Regions from separate parts of the Homo sapiens genome. Here all the other regions are linked to region 2. The links come from fine-mapping of genetic effects on gene expression. A gene starts in region 2. Each other region holds a variant in brackets. All regions are shown on one strand. Distances are between the middles of the regions. Region 1 overlaps HSDL2 (hydroxysteroid dehydrogenase like 2). Region 2 holds the start of HSDL2-AS1 (HSDL2 antisense RNA 1). Region 3 has its middle 14 kb from the start of HSDL2.

Evidence for each region. PIP is the estimated chance that this variant, and not a neighbour inherited with it, causes the effect.
Region 1: its variant is fine-mapped to the expression of HSDL2-AS1 in anterior cingulate cortex (GTEx, PIP 0.96).
Region 3: its variant is fine-mapped to the expression of HSDL2-AS1 in prefrontal cortex (GTEx, PIP 0.93).

The regions. Positions count from the first base shown.
Region 1 is chr9:112,383,205-112,393,403 of GRCh38, forward strand. The region is part of intron 1 of HSDL2 (hydroxysteroid dehydrogenase like 2); the gene reads left to right. Among named protein-coding and RNA genes, the nearest start is that of HSDL2, 8.2 kb to the left of the region's middle. The variant A/G (reference allele first, on the strand shown) is at 4,570.
Region 2 is chr9:112,483,257-112,493,455 of GRCh38, forward strand. HSDL2-AS1 (HSDL2 antisense RNA 1) reads right to left here and starts at 4,388. Exons shown (of 5, transcript NR_171779.1): 1 at 3,723-4,388; 2 at 3,134-3,285. KIAA1958 reads left to right here and starts at 3,571. Exons shown (of 4, transcript NM_133465.4): 1 at 3,571-3,862. RefSeq lists an enhancer at 3,050-3,109 and silencers at 3,540-3,599, 3,680-4,169.
Region 3 is chr9:112,360,514-112,370,712 of GRCh38, forward strand. It overlaps a transcript of PTBP3 not described here and the pseudogene RPL32P22. Among named protein-coding and RNA genes, the nearest start is that of HSDL2, 14 kb to the right of the region's middle. The variant C/G (reference allele first, on the strand shown) is at 5,800.

The DNA of each region.
Region 1 (10,199 bases), 100 kb before region 2:
CTGGGATTACAGGCGCACACCACCATGCCGGCTAATTTTTGTAATTTTAGTAGAGATGGAGTTTCACCATGTTGGCCAGGCTGGTCTCAAACTCCTGACCTCAAGTAATCCTCCTGACTCGGCATCCCAACATGCTGGGATTACAGGTGTGAGCCACCGTGCCTGGGCAGATCTTTTTATAATTAGTTTTCTTCTGATATTTTTATGGTCTTATATTTTTGTATTTTTCAAATATATTTGTATTGTCTATATTTTTTATAGTCAGATTTTTTTATCCCCCTGAGATTTCTTTCAGGAAGTGAGTTAGGAAGCCCACTTGATTTTTCTTCAGATGGCTGCTCATTTGTCCTAGCAGCATTGACCTAAGAGTTAATCTTTTCTCTTCTGCTCGAAATTCTACCTCTGTTGTATATTAAATTCTTGCACATATAGCGCTCTGTTTCTGGACTTTCTGCTCTGCTACTTTAGTCTCTATTCATGTACCAGTACCAGACTGTTTACTTAATTAATTAATTGAGACAGGGCCTCGCTCTGTCACCCAGGCTGGGGTGCATTGGCACCATCATAGTTCACTGCAGCCTTGATCTCCTGGGGTTAAGCAGTCCTCCCAGCTCATCTTCCCAATTAGGTGGGACTATAGACATGCGCCATAATGCCTGGCTATTTTTAAAAAATTTTTTTGTAGAGGAGTCTCACTTTGTTGCCCAGGCTGGTCTCAAACTCCTGGGCTCAAGTGATCCTCCTGCCTCAGCCCCCGAAGTGCTAGGATTACAGATGTGAGCCACTCTACCCAGCCCAAACTATTTTAATTGCTCTAGTTTTACAAAATGTTTTAATATGTGGGAAAGCTAGTTCCCACCACATTTGGATTATTTTTCAGAATTTTCCTGGTTATACTTGGGTATTTATTTTTCCAAATGAAGTTTAGAATAATTTGTATAGTTTTTTGGAAACAGTTGTTCTTCCTTTTACTAAAAATTTCAGTACTTTTACCTGATTTTGGGGTACCAGAGAATTTTAGTAAATTAAACTGTAAGTTAGCTCTTCATCAGCAAGTTTTAGCCATCTATCAATAATACTAAGAAATTTGGAGCCTTCTTTGAAGTGCTCTTGCCTTCTATATTCTGGTACTAATGCTTTGGAGCTGGAGGACTTCTTACTGGCACAGATCAGGGTTATGTTTGCTTTTTTTTCTGCCAATGCCAGAGACTCTGAGTGAGGAAGAAAATGCCCTTTCTCCTACTGGGAATCAATCAAGCTATACTCAAAGCAAAGAGATATGGCTTTTTTTTACAGCAATAGTTGGGACATTTTCTTGTAAATACTTACATTAAAAATCACTTTAGCCTGTGGTCCCAGCTACTTGGGAAGCTGAGGTGAATCACTTGAGCCCAGGAGGTTGACGCTGCCATGAGCTGTTGAGGCTGTTGTGGTAAACTGAGGACCAGAGAGACCGATATTGGGAAGACAGGAGGATGTTTATTTAAGGTACTCACCGGCTCAGTGGATTCACATCCAAAAAGCTGAGCCTTGAACAAAAACAGAGTTTAGCTTATATAGGCCAGCATACAAGATCAAAACAAAGGCAGTAAATTTTACAGTGACAAATCACGTAATCCATAGCATAACTGCTGACCTGGCACTAACCTGTGGCCTTGCATAGCTAGTGGCCTAGCAGCTGCATCGAAAGAAAAACAGGAACTTTGCAAATCTTACTAAATACAAGCATTGGCAAACATAGTCATAACTAATAGTACAAGAGAGACAGTAAAGGAAATTGTTTTTCGTCTTTTAACCTTGCTCAGGGGTGTCTGGAGTTCATTTCTGCAGGCTAGGTCACCACGACCTGTCTACAGCCTTGCTTGCAGTAGTGAAAAACTTGTGCAAGACTGTCAAAAGAAAAACACAACAACAACAACAACAGAACCACTTTAATATTTTATGTATACTACCTTTTGTATGAAAAAAGGAAGGGATAGTTTTTCACATACATAGAGTGTTTTATATATATATATGTTTGCTTATGTTTGAAAAAAGTACAAAAATGATAGGCCAGAAATTAATGAAGCTGGTCACCTATAGGTAAGAGATCAGACTTCTTTTTTAAAAGTTTTTAAGTTTTATTTATTTATTTATTTTTTTGAGATGGAGTCTTGCTCTGTCGCCCAGGATGGAGTGCAGTGGCGCGATCTAGGCTCACTGCAACCTCTGCCTCTTGGGTTCAAGCGATTCTCCTGCCTCAGCGTCCAGAGTAGCTGGAATTACAGGCATGCACCACCACACCTGGCTAATTTTTTTTTTTTTTGACAGAATCTTGCACTGTCGCCCAGGCTGGAGTGCAGTGGCGCGATCTCAGCTCACTGCAGCCTCCACTTCCAGGGTTCAAGCAATTCTGCTTCAGCCTCCCGAGTAGCTGAGATTACAGGCACCTGCCACCACGCCTGGCCGATTTTTTTTTTTTTGTATTTTTAGTAGAGATGGAGTTTCACCATGTTGGTCAGGCTGGTCTCAAACTCCTGACCTTGTGATCCGCCCACCTCAGCCTCCCAAAGTGCTCGGATTACAGGCGTAAGCCACTGTGCCTGGCCAATTTTTGTATTTTTTAGTAGAGACGGGGTTTCACCATGTTGGCCAGGCTGGTCTTGAGCTGACTTCAGGTGATCTGCCCACCTCGGCCTCCCAAAGAGCTGGGATTACAGGTGTTAGGCACCATGCCCGGCCAATTTTTTTAATTTAATTTTTTTTTTTTAAATAGTAACATGGTCTTGCTATGTTGCCTAGGCTGGTCTCAAACTTGGGCCCAAGCAATCCACCCACCTCAGCCTCCCAAAGTGTTGTGATTACAGGCATGAACCACCATGCCTAGGCCTCAACTAATTAAAAAAATATTTTTTTGGTAAAGGTGGGGTCTCACTATGTTGCCCAGGCTGGTTTGTAATAATATATTTTAATTCTCTTTTTTAACCCCACAAGTATTATTTTATTATTATTGTACTCTTTCTAAACAAGATTTCTGTACTTATTTACCAATATCTTTGATTTTCCTATTTTCTTGAATTTCAGACCTTCCATCTGGAAACACTTTTCTTCTGACTGAAGTGTAACCTTTAGTAAATAAGGTGTAAGACAGGAAGAAAAAGTATTTGGATTATAATGAAATAAATAATGCTGTCGTTATTTGCCGATGATATTATCCTGCACAGAAAACCAAAATAATGTATAACTGAATTATTATAATTAATAAAAGTTTAAGAAAATTGCTATATATAAAAGTCAACAAATAAAAATAATTTTGAGCTTGGCATGGTGGCTCATGCCTGTAATCCCAGCATTTTGAGAGGCCAAGGTGGGAGAATCGCTTGAGCCCAGGAGTTCAAGACCACCCTGGGCAGCACAGTAAGACTCTGTCTCTACCAAAAAAAAATAAAAATTAACCAAGCGTGGTGATGCACACCCGTGATCCTAGCTATTCAGGAGGCTTAGTGGGAGGATTAGTTGAGCTGGGAAGGTCAAGTCTCCAGTAATCTGTGATTGTGCCATTGCACACCAGCCTGGGCGACAAAGGGAGACTCTCTCAAAAAATAATAGTAAGTTAGATTTCTACACGAGCAAAAATCTGCAAGAAGTATATAGTACATGTCAATAAAAATGAGAAGTTCAAAATCCCAGATATGGACTCCACTACAGGACATATGATGTATATTCTTCAGCAAATAAATGGCATAAAGAGTGGAAGGGAAGCTGGCAGTGATTAAAAGAGAAACTCTTAAGGTATAACAGCCAGATGTAATGTGAGGTCCTTATTGGATCCTGATTTGATCAGGCCAACCATAAGAAAAACTGAGATAGTTATAAAAGTTTGAACATAGACAGATATTGAGTGATATTGAGAAATTATTGTTAATTTTCTTGGGTATAATAATGACATTGGTATTTTAAAAGTTTTTATCTGTTAGAAAAGTAAATACTGAAGTATTCATAGGTGAAAGTATATAACCTCTGGGATTTGGTTTCTTTTCTTTTTTTTTTTTTTGAAACAGGGTCTCACTCTGTGGTTCAGGCTGGAGTGCAGTGGTGTGAAATCAGCTCACTGCAACCTCCGTGTCATGGGCTCAGGTGATCCTCCAACCTCAGCTTCCTGAGTAGCTGGGACTATGGGTGCGTACCACATGCCTGGCTAATTTTTGTATTTTTTAGTAGAGATGGGGTTTCTCTATGTTGCCCAGGCTGGTCTCAAACTCCAGGGCTAAAGCGTTCTGCCCACCTCTGCCTCCCAAAGTGCTGAGATTATAGGCATGAGCCACCATGCCTACCTAGGATTTGTTTTCTGATGATTGCTTTCACAATTTAGTAGTTGAATAAACATGGAAGCTTATTATACTCTTTTCTGGTTTTTTAAATGTATTTGAAAATTCCATAATAAAAAGAGTCTTCGTTTTTGCACTGATTGTTTATTGGTTGCAAGGGAAGGAATAGTAACTGTGCAGTGGAGAAATATGGTAACACTATGGTTAGATGATAAAAATTGACATTATAAAGTGAGTACGGATGGACGTTGTATGCTGCCCT[A/G]TGGGATATACTGAGGAAAATACAGTATCACATGTTCTGGTTGGAAATGCATAACCGGAATCTAATCATGAAGAAATATCAGTTGAATCCAAAATGAGCATTCAGCCAGGGGTGGTGGCTCATGCTTGTAATCCCAGCACTTTGCAAGACCAAGGCAGGAGAATCGCTTGAGCCCAAGCATTCAAGACCAGGCTGGCCAACATGGTGAGACCCTGTCTCCACAAAAAATAAAAAAATTAGCTGGGCTTGATGATGTGTGCCTGTAGTCCCAGCTACTCAGGAGGCTGAGGTGGGAGATTTGCTTGAGTCCAGGAGGTCAAGGCTGCAGTGAGCTGTGATTGCACCACTGTACTTCAGCCTGGGTGACAGGGCAAGAGCCTGTCTCAGAAAAAAACAAACAAAAAAAAACCCAGGCACAGTGGCTCATGCCTGTAACCCCAGCACTTTGGGAGGCCGAGGCGGGCAGATCACGAGGTCAGGAGTTCAAGACCAGCCTGACCAACATGGTGAAATCCCGTCTCTACTAAAAATAGAAAAATTAGCTGGGCGTTGTGGTGCGTGCCTGTAATCCCAGCTACTCGGGAGGCTGACGCAGGAGAATCACTTGAACGTGGGAGGCAGAGGTTGTAGTGAGCCGAGATCGCGCCACTGCACTCCAGCCTGGGAGACAGAGCTAGACTCCATCTCAAAAAAAAAAAAAAAAAAAATACGCCAGGTGTGGTGGCTTACACCTGTAATCCTAGCACTTTGGGAACCTAGGTGGGTGGATCACAAGGTCAGGAGTCCAAGACCATGGTGAAACCCTGTCACTGCTAAAAATACAAAAAAAAATTAGCCAGGTGTGGTGGTGCATGCCTGTAATCCCAGCTACTCAGGAGGCTGAGGCAGGAGAATTGCTTGAACCTGGGAGGTGGAGGTTGCAGTGAGCTGAGATAGTGCCACTGCACTCTAACCTGGGCGACTGAGTGTGACTCCATCTTGGAAAAAAAAAAGTAAGGATCATTATATTTTTTAAAAAAGGAGTGCAGACTGTATTTTTCAAAAGGTCAATATCATAAAAGACAGAAGAGGCTGCAAAAATGTTCTAGATTAACGGAGACTAAAGAGATATGTCAATTAAAAGCACTACCCTAAACCGGGTCCTGTAGTGGAAGGAAAAAATGCTCTAAAGGGCATTATTGAGTCAATTGACAAAATTAAAATACTGTGAAAGTAGATACATGAGAGACCAAGCTTTGATGTATTCAGATCACTTTTTTTTTTTTTCTTTTTGAGACAGGGTCAGTCTCTGTTTCCCAGGCTAGAGTACAGTGGTGTAATCATGGCTCACTGCAGCCTCAACCTTTGGGATCAAACAGTCTTCCTGACTGAGCCTCCCGAGTAGCTGGGACTACAGGCACACACTGCCACACATGGCTAATTTTTTAATTTTGTAGAGACAGGGTCTCACTATGTTGCCCTGGCTGGTTTCGACTTCTGGGCTCAAGTGATCCCCGTCTTGGTCTCCCAAATTGCTGGGATTATAGGCATGAGCCACTGCACCTGGCCTCAAATCACTCTTAAGTGGTTTGGAGAAAATAAGATATAGAGAAGGAGAAAGGGAGAAGGAGAGAAAATGAGCACAAATGCTAAATCATTGGGGTAAAATATTAACAATACATGAATCTGGGTGAAGGATATGTGAATATTTTTTTTGTACTATTATTCTTGCAACTTTAAATTTGAATTATTTACAAATAAAAAGTTGGAAAAAGTTAAAAACAATGGAGTACCTAGGAATAAAGCCAACAAAAGATGTATAATACCTTTCTGTAGGAAATTATATCATAATGAAATACATTAGAAAGACCTAAATAAATGGAATTATACCATGTTCATGGATTAGAACACTCACTGTCACAAAAATGTCAATTCTTTCCACTTTGAATTATAGACTTAATGTAATTTCTGTCAAAATCTCAACTGATTTCACTTGACCAGTTAGATAATGAGATTCTAAAATATATGTGGGCCGGGCGTGGTGGCTTATGCCTGTAATCCCAGCACTTTGGGAAGCCGAGGCCGGTGGATCACTTGAGCTCAGGTATTCCAGACCAGCCTAGCCAACATGGCAAAACCCTGTCTCTACTAAAAATACAAAAAATAGCCAGTCATGGTGGCGCATACCTGTAGTCCCAGGTACTCAGGAGGCTGAGGCAGGAGAATCACTTGAACCCAGGAGGCTGAGGTTGCAGTGAGCCGAGATCACGCCCCTACACTCCAGCCTGGGCAACAGAGTGAGACTCTGTCTCAAAATAAATAAATAAATAAATAAATAAATAAATAAAGTAAAAAATAAAATAAAATATATGTGGAAAATTAAAGGTCCAAATATAGACAAGAAACTCTTGAAGAAGAATAAATTGGAATCATTTGCCTTATCAGTTATTAAGACTGATAAAGCTGTTTTAATTAAGGCAGTGTGATCATGTAGATTAGTGGTACAGAATAGAGAGTCCAAAAGCAGATAATATATATATTTATGGACATTCAGTTTATGACAGAGCTGATATTGAAGAGCAGTGGGAAAGATGGGCATTTCAGACTTGGACAGTTGGTTATCTATGTAGGGAAAAAATGTATTAGTCCCTTACTTCAGTTCATACACAAAAATTAATTCCAGGTAGATTAAAGACCAAACTTATTAATTTATCTATTTAGAGACAGGGTCTCGCTCTGTCACCAAGCTGGAGTGCAGTGACATGATCATGGCTCACTGCAGCCTCGACCTCCTGGGCTCAAGCAATCCTTCACCTCAGCCTCCTGAGTAGTTGGGACTACAGGTGCACACCAATACACTGGGCTAATTTTTTTATTTTTTGTAGAGACAGGGTCTCACTATGTTGCCCAGGCTAGTCTTGAACTCCTGGGCTCAATCGATCCTCCCATCACGGCCTCCCAAAGTACTGGGATTATAGGTCTGAGCTACCACACCTGGCCTCAAGACCAAACTTTAAAGGGTAAACCATAAAACTTTTGAAATACAAATTAATCCACTTACAGGAAAAAAAGAATTTCTTAAGATTCCCAAAGCCCTGGCCATAAAAGAAAAGAATTATAAATTCTTTAACAAATTTTCTAGGCTGGACGCAGTGACTCATGTCTGTAATCCCATCACTTTGGGAGGCCAAGGTGGGCAGATCACTTGAGGTCAGGAGTTCAAGACCAGCCTGGCCAACATGGTGAAACCCTGTCTCTACTAAAAATACAAAAATTAGCCAGGCATGGTGGCACATGCCTGTAATCCCAACTATTTAGGAGGCTGAGGCAGGAGAATCACTTGAACCCAGGAGACAGAGGTTGCAGTGAGCCAAGATCACGCCACTACACTTCAGTCTGGGTGACAGAGTAAGACTCCATCTCAAAAATAATAATAATAATAATAATAATTTTCTATAATCCCAGTGCTTTGGGAGGCTGAGGCAGGAGAATTGCTTGAGGCCAGAAATTAAAGATGAGCCTGGGCGACATAGCAAGACCCTGTCCCCCCCCAAAAAATAAAAAAATTAAATTAACCAGGCATGTTGGCATGCACCCGTAGTTCCAGGTACTTGGGAGGCTGAGACAGGAGAATTGTGATCCCAGGAATAGGAGGTTATACTGAGTTGTGATTCAGACACTGCACTTCAGCCTGGGTGATACAGAAGACCCAATCTCTAATGATAAAGAATTTCTGCTAATCAAAAGACACTATAAAAATAGTGAAAAAGCAAGCCACAAATGAAAAGATACTGAAATGTATGTAATTTATAGACTTGTATGAGTCAATAAGAAAAAAGTTAACCTTATTTATAGAAAAACGGGCAAAACCAGCCAGGCTTGGTGGCTCATGCCTGTAATCCCAGCACTTTGGGAGGCGGAGGCAGGTGGATCACCTGAGGTCAGGAGTTCAAGACCAGCCCAACCAAAATGGAGAAACCCTGTCTCTACTAAAAATACAAAATCAGCTGGGTGTAGTGGCACACGCCTGTAATCCCAGCTACTTGGGAGGCTGACGCACGAGAATCACTTGAACCCAGGAGGTGGAGGTTGCAGTGAGCTGCAGCCTGGGCGACAAGAGCAAAACTCTGTCTCAAAAAAAAAAAAGAAAAGAAAAGAAAAATGGGCAAAACCAATTAATAGGAACTTTGCAAAAGAAGGTATTGGGGGAACCTGCCCCAAGTATTTCAACATAGGTTCTTTCTATTTTCCTTAAGTGTCGGCCAGCTGAGAAATAGAGACAGCACAAAGAGAGGAATTTTACAGCTGGGCCTCCAGGGGTGACATCACATATCAGTAGGACTGTGATGCCTGCCTGAGATTCAGACCAGAAAGTTTTTATTAAGAGTTTCAAAAGAGGGGGAGGTGTAAGAACAGGGAGTAGGTACAAAGATCACATGCTTCAAAGGGTGAAAAGCAGGACTACTAATAAGGGTCTAACAAAGATCACATGCTTCTGAGGGAACAGGACAAAGGGAAAAAGCAGAACCACTGATAAGGGTCTATGTTCAGTGGTGCAGGTATTGTCTTGATAAACATCTTAAACAACAGAAAACAGGTTTGAGAGCAGAGAACCGGTTGACCACAAATTTACCAGGGCAGAGTTTTTCCTCACCCTAGAAAGCCTGAGGGCACTGCAGGAGACCAGAGCGTATCTCACTCCCTCACTCCTTATCTCAACTGCATAAGACAGACATTCCCAGAGTGGCCGTTGATAGACCTGCCCCCAGGAATGCATCCCTTTTCCAGGGTATTAATATTAATATTCCTTGCTAGGAAAAGAATTTAGCAATATCTCTCCTACTTGCACATCCGTTTATAGGCTCTCTGCAAGAAGAAAAATATGGCTCTTTTTGCCTGACCCCACAGGCAGTCAGACCTTATGGTTGTCTTCCCTTGTTCCCTAAAAATTGCTGTTATTCTATTCTTTTTCAAGGTGTGCTGATTTCATATTGTTCAAACACACGTTTTACAATCAATTTGTACAGTTAACACAATTATCACAGTGGTCCTGAGGTGACGTACATCCTCAGCTTACAAAGATAACAGGGTTAAGAGATTAAAGTAAAGACAGGCATAAGAAATTATAAAAGTATTATTTGGGAACTGATAAATGTCCATGAAATCTTCACAATTTATATTCCTCTGCCATGGTTCCAACTGTTCCCTCCATTGGGGGGTCCCAGACTTCCTGTAACATCTCTCCCTTTCTTTTTATATAAATGAGCCATGGCGATGAAGGCTTGTTCGTTCTCTTGGTTTTGACGCAGGATTCGTTGACTGGTCTGGCACGCTAAAAAGTCGATTAAACAGAGAAACATGATTCCAAAATTTACTACAGTGGAGCCCCCAATAGACTTAATCCAAGTCGTGGGGTTTAGTCCAGAAAGACTTTCTGCCACCTGACCTAACGCCTCAGCTCCAGGCACAATGGATAAATAAGCTTGAGAGGCTTCAAAAATTATTGTCTTTAATTTAGTTACGTCCAAGGATAAATGATCTTCCCTACCCAGCAGGTGTCCTTTGACCATTTCCCATGACTCATCAGTCTCATTGTAGGAATATGGTGTGATACAGAAATCAGAAGTATTCCAGTCACACTGCACTTGCAT
Region 2 (10,199 bases):
GGCTCACACCTGTAATTCCACACTTTGGGAGGCCAAGGTGGGAGGATCACTTGAGCTCAGGAGTTCAAGACCAGCCTGGCCAAATATGGTGAAACCTTGCCTCTACTAAAAATACAAAAATTAGATGGGAAGGATGGCGTGTGCCTGTAATCCCAGCTACTCGAGAGGCTGAGGCATGAGAATCGCTTGAATCTGGGAGGCAGAGGAGGCTGCAGTGAGCTGAGATCATGCCACTGCACTCCAGCCCGGGCAACACAGCAAGACTCTGTCTCAAGAAACAAAACAAAACAAACTTCCCCTCCCAGTGTCGTTGAGATATAGCCCACTTGTTCATCTTATAGACTCCCAAACGCAACACATCCCTCAGCTGACCATGAAAAAACCTAATGGTTGACTGAGGGCTGTAATCCCAACACTTTGGGAGGGTGCGGCAGGAGGACTGTTTGAGGCCAGGAGTTTGAGACCACCCTGGGTAACACAGTGAGACCCCTGTCTCTACAAAAAGAAAAAAAAATTAGCTGGGCGTAGTGGCCCACATCTCTAGTCCCAGCTACTCAAGAGGCTGAGGCATGAGGATCGACTGAGGCAGGGAGGTAGAGGATGCAGTGAGCTGAAATCACGCCACTGCACTCCAGCCTAGGCAACAGAGGGAGACCTTGTCTCAAAACAAAACAGAACAAAACAAAAACCTAATGGTTAACACCAGAGTCTTGGAAATAAGTTCCTCTCCTTTGTGCATGTGTTTTTTAAGGGCATAATGCCTATAGACCTAATAAAAGCATAATCTCACAGGTCTCCTTTCTTCTCTCTTTCTCCTCTACTCCTCCTGAGTAGCTGGAACTAGAGATGTGGGCCACCATGCCCAGCTAATTTTTTTTTCTTTTTGTAGAGACGAGGGTCTCACTATGCTACCCAAGGTGGTCTCAAACTCCTGGCCTCAAGCAATCCTCCTGCCGCACCCTCCCAAAGTGCCGGGATTATGGCCCTCAGCCAACCCACTAGGTTTACTGTGATTGCTTTCTCTAGGATCTTCGTTTTTCAAGTCCTAGCTGCCTTAATAGACCTGACTCCAAATTTTGTATCTCCAGGCCAGTAAGACTGCCGGTAAGCTCTAGGGTGCTTCTTTCTGACTTCTACACTCCTAGACACAAATCAACAATGCCCTGAGAAGGAAAAGCGGCTGAGAATGCAGGACTCACTTCAGAGTATTTCTCTTCTTCCTGGGGGGCTCGTGGACTCTCAAGCCTTGGATGACAGGGTTGCTCTCCAATTGTTTTAAACAGACTTATTTATTTTTTTAAACAGCTTTCATCGTTCTCAGTGGCAGAGTTAGTTTGTTCAACAAGGTACCTCATCATGGTTGGATGCCTGCATCATTAAAAAAATTCATTGTAGTGAAATATCCTTTAAACAAATAAAATTAGATTTGTTTTGAAGTTGATTGTGGCAAAAACAATTTAAAATTTACCTTTGTAACTACTTTTAAGTGTACAGTTCGGTGGTGTTATATTTACATTATTGTGTAACATCTCTAGAAATTTTTCATCTTGCAAAATTGAAACTCTGTACCCAGTAAACATTATATCACCATTTTCCCCTCCCTCTACCCTCTAGCAACCACTATTCTACCGTCTTGTTTCCACAAGTTTGACATAATCCCACAGTTTACATACCTCTACATAGTTCATATAGGTCAAATCATAACAGTATTTGTCCTTTTGTGACTGGTTTATTGCACTTGGCACAACATCCTCAAGGTTCATCTATGTTGTAGCCTGTGATAAGATTTCCTTCCTTTTTAAGGCTGAATAATATTCCATTATATGTATATATCACATTTTCATTCATCTCTTCATCTGTTGATGAACATTTGGGCTGCTTCAACCTCTTGGCTATTGTGAATAGTGCTGCAATGAACATGAATGTGCAAATATCTCTTCGATATCCTGCTTTCAATTCTTTTGGATATTTACCCAGAAGTGGGATTGCTGGATCATATGGTAGCTCTAGTTTTAGTTTTTTGAGGAACTTCCCCACTGTTTTGCATAGTGGTGGTACCATCTACATTCCTATCAGCATTGCATAAGAGTTCCAATTTCTCCACAAGATCCCATCTTTAGAATATGCAGCAATTAACTAGGGGGTTTTCATTTTTGGTCTTTTTTGTTTGTACAAACATTATTGTGTCAACATTTACACAGATTTTAAATTTCAGCCTAGACCTGGAAGAGTGTTGATAGAGGAAGGTGTTAAGAACATCAACCGGAATCAGCTCTAGAGATGGAGAGGGGTTGGCAGAAGCTACCTAAAAGAGAACATGCTTGATGTGGTAATGAAGTTACCTGCTTGGATTCTGGACGACCCTGGATATTTTCTCCTTTGCTAAGAAGTTAGCTTCTTTCTCTCCCTCAAAAATATTCTTCTCTTCCCTTACCTACTCCAAGGGTACAAGTGACTGGGGTATGCCTGTCACAGATGAGGTGAGGCCAAGATGTGGGCACTACGTAAGGCCTGACAGATATGGTGTAAATGTTATTTATTACCATGATTACTGTTTTGGAGATGGTCAGTGCTGTAAATAGAAAGGGAGTTAAGAGCAGACTCTGAAGCCAGACTGTCCGGAATGAATCCAGGCTCCTCTAGCTACTATCTATGTGATGTTGAAAAAATTTCTTAATTTCTCTGTGCCTCAGTTTCCTTATCATAAAATGGCAATGTTAATAGCACCCACTATGTAGAGTTCTTAGGATTAAATAAATTAATATTCGCTAAGTACTCAGTGCAAACTGTGGGCACACAGCAAGTACTACGAAAGTGTTAGGTAAAATAAAGGTGGACCAAGCCTGGTAGCACCTAGCAAGTCCAGCTTCATCTTTGCTGTGCTGAGTCGTGTAGGTGGTGTTCTTGTGTCTCTGGTTTGCTGGAGGACCTAGTTTTAGTGTATTTTAGGTATCATTAAGCATCCCCGCTCCCTCGATGGGATAGGGGTGTGTGTGTTACAGGTGGTTGTTGGGCACCTTCACGGGGCAGCGGTGACTATGGGCTGTACGTAGTATCTCGGTAGAAAGTGTTAATGCACATCCCTGGGCGGAGAGGTAACTCTACTCAATGCGTTATAAGGGAAATCACACACCTCACGGATGGTGTAGGTTCTGTCTGCTCCTTGCGTTTCAGTGGAGGTGCACAGAGCTCCGGGGGGCATCGGGGACCGCGGGCCCAGGACGTGTAGTAGGGAGCAGTGCTGTACACTTCCTCGGACCATAGCGGGGACGGCGGGTTCCACACCTGTCGGGGCAGTAGGGACTGAGCTCGTGCGCGCGGAGGATGGATTGCTCCAACCTCTCGGTCCAGCGCGCCGGCCGCCGCGTGCGAACGTGTGTGCGGCAGGAGGCTCGATCTACACCTCCTCGGGGCAGCAACGACTGCGAGCTCGGTGCGTGCCGTAGGAGGTGTCGTTACACACTTCCTGTGGGTCTCGCCGACCACGGCGCGTTTCCGGTGCCGGCTGGAGCCCGGGGTCCGAGCCCCCGCCCCGCTCGCCGGCCCCGCCCCGGCCCGCCCGCGCCCCGCCCCCTGCCCGCCCGCCGCGCTCCGAGCCGGGCGCGCGGAGCTCGGGGCGCACGGAGCGGCGCGCGGCGGTCGGCCGAGCCAGGCTGGCGCCCCCGCCCCCCGCCCCGCTCCTCGGTCCGCCGCCCGCCGGGCGCCTTCCCCGCTCCACTTACCTTTGGTGCCCGGCCCTCTGGCCGCTCTCCTCCCGCCCTCGCGCCCCTTCGGCCCGTCCCGTCCAGCCCGGGCTGCCCGGCTCTCGCAGGCCCCCCCGCGCCGACCGCGTTCCTATGGACAGACGCACAGACACCTGCAGGTGGGTGAGAGCCCGCGCGCGGGGCGGGGACGAGTGCGCCGACGCCGCGACCCAGGCGGGGAGCCCCTTTGTGTGGGGGGCGGCCGCGCCGGGGTCGACTCTGCTTCCCCGTCAGCGGCCGCGCGGTGACCCGGCTGAACCTTCCTTTTGTCTCCTCTCGGGGGAGCGAGGCCGGAGCGAGGGCAGGGACCCGGGCGGCCGCTCGTCGGCAGCGCCGGGCTTGGGGGTGCGAGGCGCAGAGACCCCCGGTGGCGGCTCCGGTCCGCCTGCCCCGGGCCGCCCCGCCGCCCGGCAGCTCGGGTCTCAGCGGCGGCTGCAGGCGCAGTGCGTGGGGCTGGCGCCCCCGCTCCTGCTCTTGGGTCTGTCGGAGGTGGGAAGGAGGGCGGGAAGGAGGAGGAAAAGGTCTGTCCTCTTAGTTTCCAAGTCTTGAGATGCTTATGGAGAAAGAGAGGTGGTTCAGGGCTCTGCCCCACTAGTTTTCCTCCTCGGGTGGCTCGCCGAGGTGCGTTTGGGGCGTGTGTGAAGGAACGTGCATGGCTTCGCTCCCTTATTTATTGTTTCTAACGGAGGAGGGCTTTCTCCAAAAGGCTCTTCCGCCCCCCCACCCCCATCTGAGGCTGCGCACAGTGATTTGTGTTTGTTATCAAATATATCGAGAAATGTATTCCCCTGGGTAGGAGGAGGTTGGACTGAACAACGTCAAACCAAAATCAAAGAATGTTTTTGGTTCCTTCAAGTCTTTTTTTTTCTTTAAGGTTTTAGATTGGGACTTTAAAAAAAATGAACGTGGCTGTGATTTTTACAATTATATGTATTTAGTGTGTGTGCGTGTGTGTGTGTGTGTGTGTGTGTGTGTTTTGAAGTTTAGGAGTAAAGTTTTGTTTTTTCCCGAACTCGTTAGGATTCGCAAGACGGAATCCTCTCCCGACGAAATAAACAGCTAACAAGCCAGTCAGGTAGTGACAGCTTCCATGGTGGAGGTTAAATTGGAGTGCAATAAACAATGATCTAGCTTTCCCTTCAGGCTGAAGCCTTTATTTCTGCTGATTTAAGATATGAGATCTTTCCCTACCCATGAGACCATGAATGTCAGAATTGAGTTTCCCCTCTAGGATTGTGCCTTTACTATTTTATTCCACGTATATAACCCAACGATTGGGTTGTGCATGGATATGGATACAGTGTTTTGAAAAATACTGTAGGGTGATGTTTCTGAATTGTCTTATTTGATTAGCTAGCTAAGTTTCTTCATGAACGGTTGCTGTGTATTGTAGATACTCAAATAATAAATGAGGTTGAATAAGCACCCAGAAAATTAATTTTACAGATTCAGATTTTTAATACGCAGGTATGGATTTATGCCTGTATCAATCTCAATCTACTGCTCCGTTCTGGAAACTCTTTTTTGCCCACCCTGTGAGAATTTATATTGACAAAGTTAAGTCTGACAGTTACCCAGGAGATTAAAAAAACGAAGAAGCAGTTTTGGGGGCCATGCATACAATTATATGGACAGTCATATGTAAAAAATAGAGGTTTTCCTAAAAAAACAAAAAGCATTATCATCTAAACTTGAAGGAAAAACGTGGAAAATTATGTATTTAAATTTTCATTAAGGTTTGAAAATTAGTAAACAGTGTACAATTTAATGCACTTTTTTAAAGACAAACTGATTTTTGTCATTATAAAAAGTTTAGTATGCTTAAAATAGTGCTTTTTTCTAGGAGAAAAATTTATCTAGATTCTTGTCCCAGTTAAACAGATTAATATTATTGCATGCCTAATTTTGTAAATGCCTGGAGCGTAGATTTGTACACACATTACTTAAAACCTAGCAGTGATCAAGCCAATCCTTTTTAGTTGATAAAATTTTACTAGTTTCTGCTTTGACTTCCAGTCTGCATTAGGTAAATGAATTTAAATTCTGCACAGAAGCACAGCTCAGTATGTGGCTCTGGTAGGCCCTTGACTAGCGTTCCTTGTCCCTCTCCATTCCTAGTAATAGCCCAAAGAGAAGAGGTATTGAAATTTGATCAGGCTTTATCGTGAATCCAGGAATGGAGTTCTAGACCACTCTCAGAATTTCAGCACTTAGATATACGTACTCTTCCTTAGCTCTTTAAAATATTTAAAAAAGATAAGCTAACGATTGAATTGCTTGTTTATATATTTACAAGGCTGTCAGTGGTAGTGATAAGATTTAACAAAGAGTCACTGTGTAGCTAAGCATCGAGTGTGGCCTGTACTGAGAATTGTTTTGGCAAAGTTGTAGTTGTGCCTGTTTTCTGAGATCATCAATGTAGTCTTTATGTGGGCTGGCTGAAAGATAACACCTAGTTTTGTTTATGTTTTTGTGTTTTTTTTTTTTTGACTGATAGGTAGATAAGAATTTTTTGTTTTTTGTGTAATTAGCAATAATATTTTAGTGTGATCAGAAGCATTCCAGAGAACCTTACATATTTTCAGCTGATTTCCTTTCTGGTAAGTTGGTGTTGAGGAAAGCATATAAATTATTTTTCATTTTTCATGTTTGAAATTTTTTTCATTTATTTTGACAAATAAGTGCTGCTTCCAGAAAATTTGAATTTGTGTAAAACTGGATTTTTAAATATAGCTGACATTTACCACCTTCTCTTTTTAAAACAACATTAAGCCGTCCACAGTTAAATTTGATAGGCTTTAAAATCCATGGACTTTTCTAGCATTTTCCTGTTTATTGGTTATCAATGTAGTATCATTACAAGAAGCCTAAAATGGCCACTTTATGTTAACTGGAATGCTCAAATGACTAGTGTTTTCATTAGCAATAAATGGAAAGCTGAAAAGTAACAATTTTATTCTTTGTAATAGATCTGTGACTTTCAAGTCTTTCTTTTTGACATTTTTTTGTAGCCTGGTGGGGAAGCAGGTCCGGCTGTGAGAGGTGTGGACAGTGACCTCTCATTCCAGCTTTTATCATCATCCTGCATTGTTTAACAACAGCACCAACACCATGCTGCTTGCTGAAAATGCAGATTTCATTCTTGGATTAATATTCTGGTACCAGATGTATGAGGCTGGCTCTAAAGAAGCTTTTTCTCTTAAGTACTGTCAAAAATAGAGAAGCTGAAGATTGGAGAGAAGCCATTTATTTTGAACAGTTTATTTTCTGACAGTTTGTGTTTGTAAAGAAACCTGCTCATAATATTTACTTAAGAGATCTACATAGTTGCCTGAGGAAGCCCCACAGGTTTCTTTTTTTCCTTTAAAAAAAGTTTCCATTGAGCTTAACTCTTACGTGATACTTCTTGACTTTGCTTCTGATTAGTTGATTTATGGACTTTATTTACTAGCATGATTGGAGAATTCTTTTGCTAGACTGAAATTGCACTCTGCCTGTGCTCTGGTCCGTTTCCTAGGTAACAAATGCACTGCATAGATTCCATAATGAGGACTGTGGTTGGCTAGTTACTGTGTAAATTCTGTTGTTTGGTAAAGCTTAGTCTCAAATTCAAATAAAGGTCAAGAAACGAAAAGTACTGAAAATGCAAATTTTTGAATTTTATTTTGTATCCAATGCCAACAAAGTTTAATAGGCTTTTCTGGAGAAAGGCAAATTATGCAGCCGTATTCAAGTTTGTTTTGCAAAGTCTTACACTTAAACAGTTGGAGAGCTTTTTCACCGTTAGTGTTCATAGTGGTAATGCTAATGGCTCTAGTGACAAAGAAGATGTATTTCAGAAACATGTTATTACACTTGAAAATAATATGGAAAGCAAAGAATCTTGGTCTAGGACAACAGTGATATTCTTATACTGAAAGGAAGTAACATTATGTATCAAAAGAAATTATACAACTTTGATGTGAGATATAACATTATGTTTTTTAGAGACACAGTCGCACTCTGTCACCCACGCTGGAATACAGTGGTGCAACCATAGCTTACTGCCTCTTCAAACTCCTGGGCCCAAAGGATCACATCTCAACCTCCCAAGTAGCTGGGACTACAGGCACGTGCCATCACACTTAGCTAATTTTTCTTATTTTTTGTAGCGATGGGGTCTTGCGGTGTTGCCCAGGCTGGTCTTGAACTCCTGGACTCAAATGATCTTCCTGCCTTGGCCTCCCAAAGTGCTAGGATTATAGGTGTGAACCACCACGTCCAGCCATAACTTTAAAAAAGTTTAAGAAGACGTTAAAACGTTGAAGCAATATTTAAAAACATTAAAAATCTTACCATAAAATGCTGAATTTCTACTCTAGCTTTTTTTCTTCTCTGCATGAACTTTGGCCAACCTAGCACCAGGGAGTAGCTCCCCCCTTGGTTGCTGCAAGTTAGAGAATAGCTTTCTCCTTCACCTTACTCTCCTCTGGAAATCTATGGCCTCTTTAGCTCCAGAGATAGGACAAAAAGTAATATGTATGGAATGGCTAGTAATTATTAGCTGGTTTTTTTTTTTGTTTTTTTTGTTTTTTTTTTCCTTAAGAAACCTGCAAAGAACCAAAATTCCATTAAAACCTACTGGAAATATATTTTCACTTGATGCCTGAAAATGTTTTTTGTTTGTTAATCATCAAGGATTTCATTAGCTGAACTTAACATACACATAACTCTTTTTAATTCTAAATAATTATCCAAAGTTGCTTCCATTGCTTTCCCTTGCTTCTCTGGATTGTTTTTAGATGATTCATTTACTCTTTGGTTAACTTTCATTTCATGCATAGGATACTTCTTGGTTGGCTTCTCTTTTTATTCTTGGTTTTCTTCAAAACTGATACTGCTTTAACCTTTTCTGTCCTTTTTTAATTGCAAATATTCTGTCCCTTCAGTTTTTTCTTATATTTTCCTCTGGAAATACTTATTATTTTAAAAATATTTTCCTTGCATGATTTAAGGCATAATCACCATATATCAAAAGCTCTATCCTTTTTTCTGTTATAGGACTTCATATTTCTGGGACGGAGTTGACAATATGTGTGAATTCTTAACCAGCTAGGACTACTTCCTCTTCTCAGCTTGTATTAATTTGTTAGGGCTGCCATAACAAAGAATCACAGATTGGTTGTCTTAAACAACAAAAATTTATTTTCTGACAATTCTGGAGGCTAGAAGTATAAGCTCAAAGTGTTGGCAGGGTTAGGTTCTTCTAAGGCCCCTCTCTTGGCTGATGGATGGCTGTCTTCCTAAGGTGGCTTCACTTGGTCTTCCCTCTGTGTATGTGTGTGTCCTAATTTCCTCTTAAGAACATCACTTACATTGGATTAGGGCACACACATATGACTTCATTTTACCTTAATTACCTCTATTCCAGGCCTTACTTCCCCTATAAGTCACATTCTGAGGTACCAGGGTTTAGGATGTGAACAGATGAATTTGAGAGGAATACAGTTCAGCCTATAACACAGTCCATCCCTCTACCTACTGCCTTTCATGCATGTATACCTACCTACCTACATATGTACATACATACCTCACTCCACATGTGGGATTTTGTTGGCAATTTTTCACTTGAATCCCAGGCCCCAATACATAGCAATATGATCAACTCTATATATAGTCATTAAAAATAAAGTAGCTAAAGGCTTTTTGTTTTTCACTCTTCATATTCATTGTTTTTAAATGCTTTATTTTTAATGACTTAAAGTACAAAATCCTTTTTTTGTTTGTTTGAGACAGGATCTTTTTCTGTTGCCCAGGATGGAGCGCACTAACGTGATCACAGCTCACTGCAGCCTCGACCTCCTGAGCTCAAGCAGTCCTCTCACCTCAGCCTTCTGAGTAGCTGGGATCACAGGTGCACACCCAGAGCCCAGCTCACTTTTTTTTTTTTTTTTTTTTGTAGAGATGAGGCCTGTGTGTCCCAGATTGGTCTTGAACTCCTGGGCTCATGATATCCTCCTATCTGGGCCTCCCAAAGTGCTGGGATTACAGGCCTGAGCCACTGTGCCTGGCCAAAATTCTTAATAGTTGTTTTGGAATACTGGAGAATATTATTGTGGCCAAATTCAGTGGAAGTGCTAATGCTGTTATTTTCTTCTGAGTTCTGAGGACTTGTTTCTTTTAGTGCTTTTTTTTTTTCAGCTATTGGTCTTGCTGCTCTCATGGTAAGTTATGCACTATTTGTTCTTTTCACGCATGTCTGATGATTCCTGAATCTAATATCTAGTCGGGGCTTTTCTCCTGAAATCCACATCTTTGTGTCCTACTACGACTGGATATATTCACTTAATTTTCCACAAGCATTTCACATTCAACATGCCCCAGACTTATTGTCCTCTTCACATCTGTGTCTTTTCTTTTATTCCTTAGCTCAGTGAGTTGGTACCACCTTCCATCCATTTTCCCAGTCCAGAAATT
Region 3 (10,199 bases), 120 kb before region 2:
CAGGGTGAGCTGTCTTGTGGGTAAAGGAAATGGAAATTTTTAAGAGATGTGGGACTCTCTCAAAGCCATTGAAATCATCTGCTCTGAGTCACATTATATTGTTGTTGGCCTCTGACCATCAATTTGTAACATTATTTTTCACTGGAGAAGCCTAAAACATCTTAAAACTCAAATGGAAAAATTTCAATGGCAAGTTATAATACGACTAACAGTAGGTTACGATCCATTAATGAGTCACCAAACTTATTTAGTAGGTTAGAATCAACTTTTTTTTTTTAACAAGGCAGACAAGATTCAAATAAAATAGAATAAAAACTTTGTACTGGGTCTGAATAAATAATTTATTTCCTTTTGTGGGTTGTGGTCAAGAAATTGGAAGGTTACTAAATTACACACTTTAAAAAATGGATTATTATGCAAGCTCAGGGTTAGGAGAGTCCTTATTTGATAACTTAAGCTTAAAGTTGTTGTCAGTGTCATATCCTTTAATATTTCAATTTGATCAGGCATTTTCAATCTCCTATATACTTGAAAATTACTTTTTAACATTGGAGAATTAAACTTCATAGACTTTATTTATTTATTTATTTTTTGTTTTTTTGAGACAGAGTCTCACTCTGTTGCCCAGGCTGGAGTGCAGTGGTGAGATCTTGGCTTACTGAAACCTCTGCCTCCTGGGTTCAAATGATTCTCTTGCCTCAGCCTCCCAAGTAGCTGGGATTACAGGCCTCCACCACCATACCTGGATAATTTTTTTGTATTTTTAGTAGATTCGGGGTTTCACCATGTTGGTCAGGCTGGTCTTGAACTCCTGACCTCAGGTGATCTGCCCATCTCGGCCTCCCAAAGTGCTGGGATTACAGGTGTAAGCCATGGCACCCAGCCTAAACTTCATAGACTTTAGAAGCCACAAAACAAGGGAAGATAACTTTGTCCATTTTATGGTAATTTTGAAAACGTTAATAATATAAAATGGATTGGAGTATCATATCCTGTTTTAATGATTCAAAGCATTATTTTCATTAAGACATTTAAATTTCTACCTTATTTTCCTTTTTTGAGAGCTATAGAAAACTTTGTTATTTTTGCCTTAACCCAAGTCAATTATTATATCACAATATTGTTAATAAATTAACATTTTGTGGCATTATACAATTTTGAATTTTAAAATAACAGTGCCACCTGGTGGTGACTCTAAACATGTTTTTATTTCTCTTCGGTATACATACCAAAAAGTGGAATTGCTCTTTTGACTGTGGACATTCGGGAACTAGCAAGTGTGTTTAACCTGAGAGACTGCCAAACTGTTTTTCAAAGCTACTGAACCATTTTATACTTCCACCAGTAACGTATGAGGGTTCTAATTTCTCCACATCCCATCCGACACTTGTTACTTTCCTTTTTTTTATTATAGTCAACCTAGTGGGTGTACAGTGGAATCTCATTGTGGTTTTGATTTGCATTTCCCTAAGTAATGCTATTGAGCATCTTTTCATGTGCTTGTTGCCATTAGTATATCTTCTTTAGAAAATTATCTATTTGGGGACAGGCATTGTGGCTCACACCTGTAATCCCAGCACTTTGGGAGGCTGAGGCAGGAGGATTGCTTGAGTTCAGGAGTTTGAGACCAGCCTAAGCAACATGGCATGACCCTGTCTCTACAAAAAGTATGAGTCTGTAGTCTCAGCTACTCAGGAGGCTGAGAGGGGAGGATAACTGAGAGGGAGAGGTTGAGGCTGCAGTGAGCCATGGTTGCACCTGAGCAACAAAGTAAGACCCTGTCTAGCAAAAGGAAAAGAAAAAATATCTATTCAAATCGTTGCCCATTTTTTAGTTGGGTTGTTCATTTTTCTGTAGCTGTTGTAAGAATTCTGTGTATATATTGGACACTGGAGCCTTATCAGGTATATGATTTATAAGTATTTTTTCTCATTCTCTAGGTTGTCTTTTCACTTTCTTGATAGTGTCCTGGGATGCACAAATTAATTATTTTAATTCTTATGAAGTTCAATGTATCTTCTTTTTTTTCCCTTCTGTGGCTTGTGCTTTTGGTGTCATATTTAAGAATCCATTGTCAAATCCAAGGTCATGAAGATTTACCCTTATGTTTTCTTTCAAGAGCTTTATAATTTTAGCTCCTACATTTAAGGTCTTTGATCCATTTGGGGTTGATTTTTAGAGCCATCTCTTACTCACCATCATGGCCACCATCAGACCCCTCATGAAGCCCAAGATCATCAAAAAGAGGAGCAAGAAGTTCATTCACCACCAGTCAGAACAATATGTCAAAATTAAGCATAACCGGTGGAAACCCAGAGACAACTGCGTTCATAGAAGATTCAAGGGCCAGATCTTGATGCCCAACATTGGTTATAGAGAAGCAATGAAAACACAAAGCACATGCTGCCCAGCGGCTTCTGGAAGTTTCTGGTACGCATTGTCAAGGACTTGGAAGGGCTGCTGACATGCAGAAAATCTTACTGTCCTGAGATAGCTCACAATGTGTCCTCTGGAACTGCAAAGCCATCATGGAAAGGGCAGCCCAGCTGGCCATCAGAGTCACCAGTCGCAATGCCAGGCAGCACAGCAAAGAAAGGGAATAGACAGCTCATGTGCATGTTTTGTGTTGAAATAAAACCATAAAAACTGTGAAAAATTAATTTTCATATAATTTTTGAGATGGAGTCAGGGGGTGGGTCCAAACTCATTCTTTTATGAATAAGAATATCTAGTTAATACGAATATCTGGGGCTGGGCTTGGTAGCACACGCTTGTGATCTCAGAACTTTGGGAATCTGAGGAGGGCAGATCTCTAGAGCCCAGGAGTTCAAGCCCAGCCTGGGCAACATGGTGAGACCTGTCTCTACAAAAAATACCAGCCTGTAGTCCCAGTTACTCGGGAGGCTGAAGTGGGCCGACTGCATGAGCCCAGGAGGTTGAGGCTGCAGTGAGCCAAGATCCACACACCAATGCACCTCAGCCTGGGCTACAGAGCAAAACTGTCACACACACACACACACACACACACACACACACACACACACACAAAGGCTATTCTTGACCTATTAGTCTTGGTATGCTTGCTGAAAATCAATAGAGCATAAGTGTATCAGTTTATTTATTCTATTAATTGATCTATATGTCTATCCCTATGCCAATACCACATGGTTTTTGCTTTTGTTTTGTAATTATTAGACTTGATTTTTTAGAAGAGTGCTAGATTCACAGAAAAATTGAGCAAAAAGTACTGAGAGTTTCCACATACTCCCTCCTCCACCATTAACAGCCCCAGTTGGTATGGTAAATTTGATATAATCAATAAACCAACATTGACATATCATTATCAACCAAAATCCATAGGGTTCACTCTGTGTTGTACCTTCTGTGAATTTTGACAAATATATAATGACATATCTGTAACATTATGGTATCATACAGAATAGTTTTACTGCCCTAAAAATCTTCTGATCTCTGCCTATTGATCCCTCCCTCCTCACTAACTACCGGCAAACACTGATCCTTTTTACTGTCTCCATAGTTTTGCCTCTTCAGAATGTCATATATTTGGAATCATACAGTGTGTACCCTTTCCAGACTGGCTTCTTTCGCTTAGTAATATGCATTTAACTTTCCTCCATGTCACTGTGGCTTGCTAGGTCAGTTCTTTTTTTTTTTTTTTTTTTTTTTTTTTTTGAGACAGGGTCTCACAGTAGCAAGATCTTTAAAAACAGGCAATAAAAGTTTAATTTGATAAGAGAATTTCAAGAAGACAAAAAAAAAGCCCTAGTTATTTGCAAAGCAGAAGAAAAGCAAAAGAGCATACTAACCTTTTATAAGTATTTTGGTAAAGAAAAGTACCAGGGGGCCAGGCACCATGGCTCATGCCTGTAATCCCAGCACTTTGGGAAACCGAGGTGTGTGGATCATTTGAGCCAGGAGTTCAAGACCAGCTTGGGCAACACAGCAAGACCCTGTCTTTACAAAAACTATAAGCCTGTAGAACCAGCTACTCGTGAGGCTGAGGTGGAAGGATAGCTTGAGCCTAGGCGTCTAAGGCTGCAGTGAGCTATGATCACGCCACTGTACTCTAGCCTGTGCAACAGGGCAAGACCCTGTCTCTATTTTTAAAAAATTAAGAAATTTAAAAAAGAAATATTGTGAGAATTAGGAAAATATGACAGAGACACAAAGTGAGGACACATTATTGGAAAAATGGCACCAATTGACTTGCGTGACACAGGGTTGACAGAAATATTCAATTTGTAAAAAATGCATTATCTGTGAAGTACAATAAAGTGAAGCTCCATAAAACAAGGCATACTTACATACATTACCACTAACTAAGTCACTATGTTGTATATTAGATTTCCAGAACTTACTGACCCTATCTAACAGTTTCAGTACCGTGTAATCTACATATCTCCATTCCTCCACCCCCACCACAACCCAGCCTCTGGCAGCCACCCTTCTATTTGCTGCTTCTACGTGTTCAACATTTTTAGATTCCACACATAAGTGAGATCATGCCTTTCTGTGGCTGGCTTATATCACTTAGCATAATGTCTTCCACGTTCATCCATGTTATCACAAATGACAGGATTTCTTTCTTCTTTAAGGCTTAATAGTATTTCATTGTATATGTCTATCTATCTATCTATGTATCTATATATGTATGTATCTATCTATACATATGTCACATTTTCTTTATCCATTCATCCATTGATGGACACTGATATGGTTTGGCTCTGTGATCCCAGGCAAATCTCATCTTGTAGCTCCCATAATTCCCATGTGTTGTGGGAGGGACCCAGTGGGAGATAATTGAATCATGGGGGTGGGTCTTTCCCTTGCTGTTCTCATGAGAGTGAATAAGTCTCATGAGATCTGATGGTTTTAAAAATGGGAGTTTCCTTGCACACACTCTTTCGCTTTGTCTGCTGCCATCCATGTAAGATGTGACTTGCTCCGTCTTGCCTTCCTTCATGACTGTGAGGCTTCCCCAGCCATGTGGAACTGTAAGTCCATTAAACCCCTTTCTTTTGTAAATTGTCCAGTCTTGGGTATGTCTTTATCAGCAGCATGAAAATGGACTAATACAGTAAATTAGTACCAGTGGTGTGGGGTGCTGCTGAAAAGATACCGAAAAATGTGGAAGTGACTTTGGAACCGGTAATAGACAGAGGTTGGAACAGTTTGGAGGGCTCAGAAGAAGACAGGAAAACGTGGAGAAGTTTGGAACTCCCTAGAGACTTGTTGAATAGTTTTGATCAAAATGCTGATAATGATATGGATAATGAAATCCAGGCTGAGGTGGTCTCAGATGGAGATGAGAAACTTGTTGATAACTGGAGCAAAAGTGACTTGGGTGCTGTTACAGGCATTCCATTTTATAAGGGAAGCAGAGTTCTGAAAATTTGCAGCGTGACAATGCGATAGAAAAGAAAATCCCATTTTCTGAGGAGAAATTCAAGCCAGCTGCAGAAATTTGCATAAGTGGCTGGGCACAGTGGCCTGTAATCCCAGCACTTTGGGAGGCCAAGGTGGGTGGATCATGAGGTCAGGAGTTCGAAACCAGCCTGGCCAACATGGTGAAACCCAGTCTCTACTAAAAATACAAAAATTAGCTGGGTGTGGGGGTGCATGCCTGTAGTCCCAGCTACTCAGGAGGCTAAGGCACAATAATTGCTTGAACCCAGGAAGCGGAGATTGCAGTGAGCCAAGACACACCATTGCACTCCAGCCTGGGCAATAGAGTAAGACTCTGTCTCAAAAAAAAAAAATTGCATAAGTAATGAGGAG[C/G]TGAATGGTAATTCCCAAGAGAATGGGGGAAATGTTGCCAGGGCATGTCAGAGGTCTTCATGGCAGCCCCTCCCATCACAGGAGGAAAAAATGGTTTCATGAACTGGGTCCAGTGTTCCCAAGCTGTGTGCAGCCTAGGGACTTGGCACCCTGCTTTCCAGCCACTCCAGCCATGGATGAAAGGGGCCAATATAGAGCTTGGGCCATGGCTTCCGAGGGTTCAAACCCCAATCCTCGGAAGCTTCCACGTGGTGGTGAGCCTGCAAGTTCACAGAAGATTTGGGGTTTCTGAACCTCCACCTAGATTTCCAAAGATGCGTAGAAATGCTTGGATGCCCAGGCAGAAGTTTGCTGCAGGGGTGGGCCCTCATGGAGAACCGCTGCTAGGGTAGTGCAGAAGGGAAAGGTAGAATCAGAGCCTCCACACAGTCCTTAGTGGGGCACCACCTAGTGGAGCTGTGAGAAGAGGGCTACCGTCTTCCAGGCCCCAGAATGATAGATCCACTGACAGCTTTCACCATTCACCTGGAAAAGCTGCAGACACTCAATCCTAGCCTGTGAAAGCAGCCAGGAGGGGGGCTATACCCTGTAAAGCCACAGGGGTGGAGCTGCCCAGGACTGTGGGAACTCACTTCTTGCATCAGCATGGCCTGGATGTGAGACATGGAGTCAAAGGTGATCATTTTGGAGCTTTAAGATTTGACTGCCCTGCTTTCTTTGTGGTTACCATGAGCCTAACATAAAATATCTTATCACAGTCTATTTTAAGTTGACACTAGCTTAACTTTCATCACAAGAACTTTGCATTTTAACTTTTCTTCCCACATTTTATGTTATTGATGTTACAATTTGTATGTTGTCTATCCATGACCAAATTATTATAGCTATATTTTAATACATAAAAAAACTTTAGACTACAGTTAAAAGTGATTTATGTACCCCCATTACTATATTAGAGTATTCTGAATTTGACTATTTTTACCCTTACAGTGAATGTTATACTTGCATGTTTTCATTTTGTTAGCTATTATTCTTTTGTTTCAACACAAAGAACTCCCTTTAGCATTTCTTGTAAAGCAGATGTAGTGGTGATGAACTCCCACAGGTTTTTTTGTTTGTGTTTTGGGTTTTTTTGTTTTGTTTTGTTTTTTGGCTAGGTTCTTATCTCCTTTATTTCTGAAGGACAGCATTACTGACCTTCAGAACAGTATAGTATTGTTAGTTGGCAGGTATAGTATTCTTAGTCAGGTATAGTATTGTTAGTTGCCAAGTTTTTTCATCTTTCAACATTTTGAATATATTCCCATGGTTTCCTGGCCTGCAAGGTTTCTACTGAGAAATGCAATGATAATCTTATGATGGTTCCCTTGTATGTAATGAGTTCCTTTTCTCTTGCTGCTTTCAAAATTCTTTCTATCTTTGACTTTGATGATTTGATTATAATGGGCCTCAGTGAAGATCTCTTTATATTTAATCTATTTGGGATTCTTTGGGTTTCATGGATTTGGATGTTCATTTCCCTTCCCAATTTGGGGAGTTTTCTGTCATTGTTTCTTTAAATAAGTTTTCTGCCCCCTTCTCTTTCACTGTTCCTTCTGGAACTCCCATAATGTATATATTAGTTTGTTTGATGATATCCCATGATTCCTGTAGGCTTTCTTCAGTTTTTTTTTCTTTTTGTTCTTTTCATTGTTGTTGTTGAGACGAAGTCTCACTCTGTCACCCAGGCTGGAGTGCAGTGGCACAATCTTGGTTCACTGCAAACTCTGCCTCCTGGATTCAAGCAATCCTCCCACCTCAGCCTCTCTAGTAGCTGGGACTACAGGCATGCACCACCATGCCTGGCTAATTTTTGTATTTGTATTTTTTATTTTTTGAGACAGAGCGTCATTCTGTTGCCCAGGCTGGAGTACAATGGTGCAACCTCGGCTCACTGCAACCTTTGTCTCCCAGGTTTAAGCGATTCTTGTGCCTCGGCCTCCTGAGTAGCTGGGATTACAGGCGTGCGCCACCACACCCAGCTAATTTTTGTATTTTTAGTAGAGACAGGGTTTCGCCATGTTGGCCAGGTTGGTCTCGAACTCCTGACCTCAAGTTATCCACCCACCTTGGCCTCCCAAAGTGCTGGGATTACAGGTGTGAGCCACCGTGCCCAGCCCAGGTACCTTATCTTCAGGGAGCACACTGTGAAAGGAATTCTTTATCAAATCTTGGCTTTTTTTTTTTAAGGTGATAAATGATTCCCTCACAATATTACAATATAACTCCCTTGAGAAAAGTTGGATTGGTTATTTTCATTCCCATACACATGGGCCTTCCCATTATAATTTCATAAGGGGACAATTGATGTTTTCCCAAAGGGATGGATTGGAGTGTATGCAGCACTAGTGGGAGTGCTTTGGGCCAGGGGAGATGAAATACCTCTGTGAACTTAGCCAATTTGCATAAGTAACGAGGAGCCAAATGTCAATTATCAAGACAACGGGGGAAAATGTCTCCAGGGCATGTCAGAGGTCTTCACGGCAGTCCCTCCCATCACAAGCTGGGAGACCTAGGAGAAAGAAATGGTTTCATGGGCCAGGGCCAGGGCCTTGCTGCTTGGTGCCCTGTGCCCCAGCCATGGCTAAAAGGGGCCAATGTACAGCTCAGGCCATTGCTTCAGAGGGTCCAATCCCCAAGCCTTGATGGCTTACACGAGGTCTTGTGCCTGCAGATGCAAAGAGGTGAGGAATTAAGGATTGGGAACCTCCACCTAGATTTCACAGGATGTATAGAAACACCTGGATGTCCAAGCAGAGGTGTGCTGCAGGGGCAGAGCCCTCATGGAGAACCTCTGCTAGGGCAGTGTGGAAGGGAAATTTGGGGTGGAAACCCCTACACAGAGTCCCCACTGGGATACTGCTTAGTGGAGCTGTGAGAAGAGGGCCACCATCCTCCAGGTCCTAGAATGACAGACCCACTGACAGCTTGCACCATGTACCTGGAAAAGTCACAGACACTCAACATCAGCCTGTGAAAGCAGCTGGGAGGGCGTCTGTACCCTGCAAAGCCATGGAGGTGGAGCTGCCCAAGACCATGAGAACTCACCACTTGCATCACTGTGACCTGGATGTGAGACACGGAGTCAAAGGAGATTATTTTGCAGCTTTAAGATTTGACTATCCCTCTGGATTTTGGACTTGCATGGGGCCTTTAGCTCCTTGATTTTGACCAATTTCTCCCATTTGGAATGGGTGTATTTACTGAATGCCTGTACTCACATTGTATCTAGGAAGTAACTAACTTGCTTTTGATTTTACAGGTTCATAGGTGGAAGAGGCTTGCCTTGTCTCAGATGAGACTTCAGACTATGAACTTTTGAATTAATGCTGAAATGAGTTAAGACTCTGGGGGACTGTTGGGAAGGCATGATTGTGTTTTGAAATGCGAGGACAGGAGATTTGGGAGAGGCCAGGGACAGAATGATATGGTTTGGCTGTGTCCCCACCCAAATCTCATCTCAAATTGTAGCTCCCATAATACCCACGTGTTATGGTATTATGGGAGGGACCCAGTGAAGGTAACTGAATCATAGGGGCCAGTTTTCCCATGCTTTTCTCATGATAGTGAATAAATCTCATGAGATCTGATGATTTTATAAAAGGCAGTTCCCCTGCACACACACTCTTGCCTGCCACCATGTAAGACATGCTTTTGCTCCTCCTTTGCCTTCTGCCATGATTGAGAGGCCTCCCTAGCCATGTGGAACTGTGAGCTTATTAAACCTCTTTTTCTTTATAAATGATCCAGTCTCAGGTGTTTCTTAATAGCAGTATAAAAATGGACTAATACAATGTTTCTGCAAGGGAACAAATGCTGGAAAATCCTCTTCTACCATCTTGCTGATGTCACTGCTCCCACTTTTGATTACTGTAACCTTATAGTAAGTTTTAAAATATGGAAGTGTGGGCCAGGTGCAATGGCTCATGCCTGTAATCCCAGCACTTTGGGAGGCTGAGGCAGGTGGATTACTTGAGCTCAGGAGTTCAAGACCAGCCTGGACAACATGGCAAAACCCTATCTCCACCAGAAATACAAAAAAATAGTGGTGTGGTCATGCATGCCTGTGGTCCTAGCTACTCAGGAGGCTGAGATGGGAGGATCACTTGAGCCCAGGAGGTGGAGGTTGCAGTGAACCGAGATTGCGCTACTGCATTCCAGACTGGATGACAGAGTGAGACCCCGTTTCAATTAAAAAAAAAATCTGGAAGTATGAGTCCTCCAATTGTGTTGTTCTTTTTCAAATTGTCTTAGCTATTGGGGATGTCTCACAAGTCCACATTAATTTGAGGATTGGCTTTTCCATTTCTATGAATAAAGCTATTATAATTTTGATAGGGATTGTATTGAATTTGTAGATT